2 linked regions of the Homo sapiens genome follow. The protein of the gene in region 1 interacts with the protein of each later gene in a pairwise test. Each region holds a gene or a part of one and is shown in the gene's direction. Other genes may lie near its edges.

The links.
Region 2: the proteins of CHEK2 (region 1) and LRATD2 interact in binary tests that used the Homo sapiens proteins (3 or more experiments, as listed by UniProt).

Annotation. Positions count from the first base shown.
Region 1 is NC_000022.11:28,693,321-28,696,820, reverse strand, and holds part of CHEK2 (serine/threonine-protein kinase Chk2), read left to right. Parts: intron 1-947; coding exon 948-1,111; intron 1,112-1,578; coding exon 1,579-1,694; intron 1,695-2,703; coding exon 2,704-2,789; intron 2,790-3,500. UniProt on the Homo sapiens protein: Serine/threonine-protein kinase which is required for checkpoint-mediated cell cycle arrest, activation of DNA repair and apoptosis in response to the presence of DNA double-strand breaks.
Region 2 is NC_000008.11:126,551,943-126,554,456, reverse strand, and holds the end of LRATD2 (protein LRATD2), read left to right. Parts: 3' UTR 1-2,014; downstream 2,015-2,514.

The DNA of each region.
Region 1 (3,500 bases):
AGCGTAAAAAGGATGAGAATCTGACCCTTTCACTGTTACCAATTATTTTAGAGATCAGGTGATACTGCTCTTATCCAGATTCGAATGAGCATTTATTGAGCTCTGTTGTGTACAAGTGACCTTTGTGCTTAGAGAGAGAGGAGGGGTCTAAATGGACGAGTGGGCTGGGTATGGTGGCTCACACCTGTAATCCCAGCACTTTGGGAGGCCGAGGTGGGCAGATCACCTGAGGTCAGGAGTTTGAGACCAACCTGGCCAACATGGCAAAAAATACAAAAATTTAGCTGGGCATGGTGGTGGGTGTCTGTAATCCCAGCTACTTGGGAGGCTGAGACACGAGAATCACTTGAACCTGGGAGGCAGAAGTTGCAGTGAGCTGAGATCGCACCACTGCACTCCAGCCTGTGCAAAAGGGCCAGACATCATCTCAGAATAGGTGAATGAATGAATGAGTAATCACATGCGCTGCCTTTCCCTGTTTCTCAAGTCTGGCATCACTTTAGAATCTCTTGTTAGGATTTATGACACCCAGGCTTTACCTCAGAAGCTGAGAGTGGCACTCAGGTATAAGCATGTGTTTCCAAGCTCCCCAGGTATTCCATAGCGCAGCCAAGTTTGAGACACTGGGGTCTAAGAACCATGTAGAACTAATTAGAATCCTGAAGTGTCTGTGATAAAGATAATAAGCTTTTTGTAAGATTACAGAGGACATAGGTTAAGTTGGAAAGCCTGAGTGTTGAGATTCCTAGGCTCAGGAATTTTAATTTAAGCAAAATTAAATGTCCTAACTTGCAAAGACATGAATCTGTAAATTCCAGATTAATGGCAGGTGTGAATTGTACAATAGAAACTGATCTAGCCTACGTGTCTTCTTGGACTGGCAGACTATGTTAATCTTTTTATTTTATGGCAAGTTCAACATTATTCCCTTTTGTACTGAATTTTAGATTACTGATTTTGGGCACTCCAAGATTTTGGGAGAGACCTCTCTCATGAGAACCTTATGTGGAACCCCCACCTACTTGGCGCCTGAAGTTCTTGTTTCTGTTGGGACTGCTGGGTATAACCGTGCTGTGGACTGCTGGAGTTTAGGAGTTATTCTTTTTATCTGGTAAGAAATATTTTCATTGCTGCACAGACTGGTAGGAGGTGATTAGATGAAGTCACAAATGTGTCTTGCTCTGTTGTCCAGGCTGGCATGCAGTGGCTTGATCTTGGCTAACTGTAGCCTCTGCCTCCTGGGTCAAGTGATCCTCCCACCTCAGCCTCCCGAGTAGCTGGGACTACAGATGCACACCACCATGCCCAGCTAATTTTTCTATTTTTTGTAGTGATGGGGTTTTGCCATGTTGCCCAGGCTGGTCTCGAACTCCTGGGCTCAAGTGATCCTCCTGCCTCGGCCTCCCAAAGTGCTGGGATTACAAGCCTAAGGCATTGTGCCCAGCCTAGCTCACTTTTTGACCATTGATTTAAAGAAAAATCTGACTTTTCATTATGCTGAAAAAGAAATCTTTATATCTGAATGCCACTGAGAATGCCACTTGATTTCTTTTCCTTTCTCTCTCTACCAATATTAAGCCTTAGTGGGTATCCACCTTTCTCTGAGCATAGGACTCAAGTGTCACTGAAGGATCAGATCACCAGTGGAAAATACAACTTCATTCCTGAAGTCTGGGCAGAAGTCTCAGAGAAAGGTATGAATATGAAAGGGTTAAGAATTTGTGGTATGCTAAAATGTGTATGTGCTGTGGTGGGAGTTTCTTCCCAAATTCCATGGTGTTTTCTCCTGTCAATTCTGTTCTTATTTTCTATTGTTAGTTTCACACCATTTGAGAGGCACTGGAAATTATTAAGAGCATGCACTCAGGTCCTGGGTCTGCTACTACTTAGCTGTGTGGCCTTAGGCAAGTTATTTAACCTCCATCTCCAATTTCTTTCTGTGTAAAGGGACCCTCAATAAACCCTACCTTAAAAGGTTTTTGTGAGGGTTAAGTATCATGTACACAAGTGCCTGGTACCTATTTTAGTGAGCAAAATAAATGCACTTGTAACTTTTTAGTTACAAGGTTTCCTTTGAGTAAGCAAGCATGTAAAAACTAGATGTCATTAGTTACCTTGTATTTTATAATTTATCCTGGCAACTTTAGTTCCCTGAAGAGAAAGTAGAAAATTAAATGTCAAATAACATAACATAGGTGATTGTGTTAAATGTCAGAATATTTAAGGAATAATAATGTTGTAATATACAGGCCAGCGTGCATTTGTTGCTTGCTGGAGTAGCCAAGTTTTATTTCTGACAAGTCTGCAGTTCCAGGGAGCCTCTCCCTCGCTGAGTAACTGTCACCTATCCATCTGTAGATGTCAGAGAGAGTTTGCTGTGCATCCCAAGTATCTTAGAATTGGGTAGAAGTTTAGCTTTAATTAGTCCGACCTTGAGTCTAGCAACAAGAGAGGGAACAGGCAGTGAAGAGGTCGTGACTGACGTCCCAGCAGCAGGAGACAGGGAGTGTCATTATCATTCCTGGTCTTCTCACAGTACTCTGAATACAGAGAGTGAGGAAGATTAGGGGGCCCTGTCTGCTGACTCCGTGATGATCTCAGACCCTCTCTGCTCTTTCTGAATGGTGGCCTGTTAATTCTGGCATACTCTTACTGATAATATATTTATCCTTTTCACTGTGATTTGCCCAATTGTTGCTTTAGCTCTGGACCTTGTCAAGAAGTTGTTGGTAGTGGATCCAAAGGCACGTTTTACGACAGAAGAAGCCTTAAGACACCCGTGGCTTCAGGTGGGTGTGGGACAGTGCCTGCTAGCATAAAATACATGGGAAGCCCTGCTGCCTGAGAGACATGAGACAGAGGACAGAAACATGTTTACTTTGTTGAGTGTTTAATCTAATTGTTTTAGATGTATGGGGGGTATCTTGGAGGATGGGTTACAACCTGTTTTATTTTTTTTTTTGAGACAGGTTCTTGTTCTGTCACCCTGGCTGGAGTGCAGTGGCACGATCTCAGCTCACTGCAACCTCTGGCCCCCGGGTTCAAGTGATTCTCCTGCCTCAGCCTCCCAAGTAGCTGGGATTACAGGTGCATGCTGCCATGCCCAGCTACTTTTTGTATTTTTTGTAGAGATGGGGTTTCGCCGTGCTGGCCAGGCTACAACCTTTTTGATATTACTCATGGCTGTTGGATGTACACGCTCACTTTATGTCCTGTTCTGGTTCCACTTGGCTGCCCCGAGTCTCCTGTTTGGCCTGTGTTCTTTTGAGTGCTTGTTCTGGCTCTACCCCCAGCCATGTCCACTGCTCTTCATAGGTGGGGTGCATTCCAGCCATCTTCAACCTTAAATCAGGGAAGTGGGGGAGGGGGAGGAGGACAGCCTCCCTGGGGAGAATCCAGCTATTTCTCAAGCCCAAGTGACTGGGTATAAAGGGTCCCACTGCTTGTTCATTCAGGTGAGTAAATGTGTCCTTAATGAAGGCTGTCACCTGCACTTTTCA
Region 2 (2,514 bases), on another chromosome or scaffold:
TTTAATACTCTCACAGCTTTGTGTTTATTCTCTTTGCTCATGGAATAGCAGAACAAGATAAACATGGGTTAAGACATTTAGGAGAACCTGCTGTATCTAACCCAGTTGGATTTTCTTTCATGCTTAACACAGTAGTGAAAATAGAAGGTAGGCCGGGCACAGTGGCTCATGCCTGTAATCCCAGCACTTTGGGAGGCTGAGGCAGGTAGATCACCTGAAGTTAGGAGTTCGAGACCAGCCTGGCCAACATGGCGAAACCCTGTCTCTACCACAAATACAGAAAATTAGCTGGGCGTGGTGGCAGGCGCCTGTAATGCCTGCTACTTGGGAGCCTGAGGCAGAAGAATTGCTTGAAGCTGGGAAGCAGAGGTTGCAGTGAGCCGAGATCGCACCACTGCACTCCAGCCTGGGCAGCAGAGCAAGTAGTAATAACCACCGTGTAGACAAGTGGGAGGGAAGAATAGAATGGCACTGTCCAGCTCTGGGCTAGCCAGATCAACTCCCCCACCCGTCTTCTTCCTCTGTCCCAGAATGGAAAATGATGTATGGTCAGTCACGCTGAAGTATAGCAGCGACTGTGTTAAGAGAGAGCAGTGACTCTCTCTTCTAGAGAAGAGGTTTTCAATAACAGGGCTTGGAAATGAACTAGAATAGGAAATAGATCTTTTCAGATGCTGCTTTCCCATGTAATACAAGCGTTTCTACAGGGTACCAGAGGTGTGAAATATGTGACACTTAAGAACAGTGATTTTTATTGGGAATTTTCTTAGGGTTATTACACTTAAAGCAACAACCAACTAGTAACAGCTCCAGGAAAGGGGAATGAATCAACTCTTGGTTCTTTCCTGAAGACGGCAGTGTTGTGGATAAGTGAGTTTTTAATGCCCTGGCAGTGGCTACATTTGACACTTTAGAAAAAATAAACATATTTAATAATTTTTGTTTCTCCTTAGGAATAAGACTGTAGAACTGTTTTGTACTGTGAATTACGGATGCTCTTTGAAGGAAAGAAATATCGATTCTAATGTTCTTCAGAAGTTCTGGCAGGGATAAGCAGGACATCGACTGGAACGTATGCTAAATGAAAGCAGACAAATTTCTATTTTCTTACCTGAGCAAATATTTTATTGAAACTGCTTATGTATGTCAAAGGAGCCCACAACTTCAGCTACACAACTTTTTGTATTGAAAGAACTCATACTTTTTGTAGCTTTTATTTCACATTTAATTTAAAGTGACTTTTAGCACTAAAATGCCTAGAAGATTTTACTCCAGACCTATAAGGAAATGTTTAGTTTTTATGAAAAATGACAAGTCGATGGTTAAACTTCTCATGTCTTTGGTGCTTTGGCCCTAATAGCACTGGACAACACCACGACCACATGGAAACATATTTTTGGAAGCAAAACTTTAATTTTATATAACGTATGCTATGGAGAGCTAAGACAATTTAAGGACTACTTGTTTTCTATTTTTTTTCTTAATAAAATGGAATCCACTGTGTTGAAGACTCTTGATATCATGTGCTTGTCTAACCATTTTTTGTTTTATAAATTAGAATAAAATATAGTTGTGATAATGGTCATCGAATGGATTTGTTTGGAAAGCTACATCTTATTTGTGAAATGTTTTTTAAATCAGAGTAACTATCAACTGATTCAGCTTTTTGTTGTTTTGTTCTTGGCTATAATACTTGTGACTCATGAAGAATTATGTTGACAAACAGGATAAATTCCACATGCATTTTATTTCCCAGTGAGTTGTATAAACTTTATTTTTGTTGAAGGTTGTATGTTAAATCAATGTTACATTCTTATATCACTTCTTGAGAAGGAAGTTCCGATTTGAAATTGTATCATTTCCTTCAAAATGAAGGGCAGTGCTTAGTTAAATAAAAGATTGATGATATCTTTTAAGCCATTTCCTCTTCACTATGTCTTATTAAAATAAAACCTGTCAAGTTCTTTTCAAAAGATGCTATGAGCGTTTCCAATAAACCATCTATTAGAGTTCACTGGATTTTTTTCCACTTGAATACCTTTTTTCTGACATTTTTGGTCCAAATTCAAGCTACTCAGTTTCCTATAATTTCTCTGAGAATATTAGCGTGCATCACCTTTGTATTGCACAGTAAACATTTTGTTGAATTCATTTAGTGACTGAAAACCCTGCATCTACTTTGTGAAAATCAGTTATTGCTGAACTATCAGTGTTCATGAAAAATGACTTATGAACATAAATTTTCAATACATAGTGATTTTTCAGAATCCATGCAAAAATTGTTGGAAACCACACTCATTATGGAGTCTACACTGGGCAGTCTGTTTAGTAGCCCACCGGGAATCTGTGTTGCATCTTAAGTGGCTTCAGAGTTCCAGATGAAGGGAACGTATTTGCCACATAATTACAGAAAATGGGTGAACATAGTGGCACGGCACTGTTGGCATAAGGGATGCAGGTGCCAGTGGTTGGTAAGAGAACAGATGTGGCATCAGACTGGTGTGTGGGATGCCA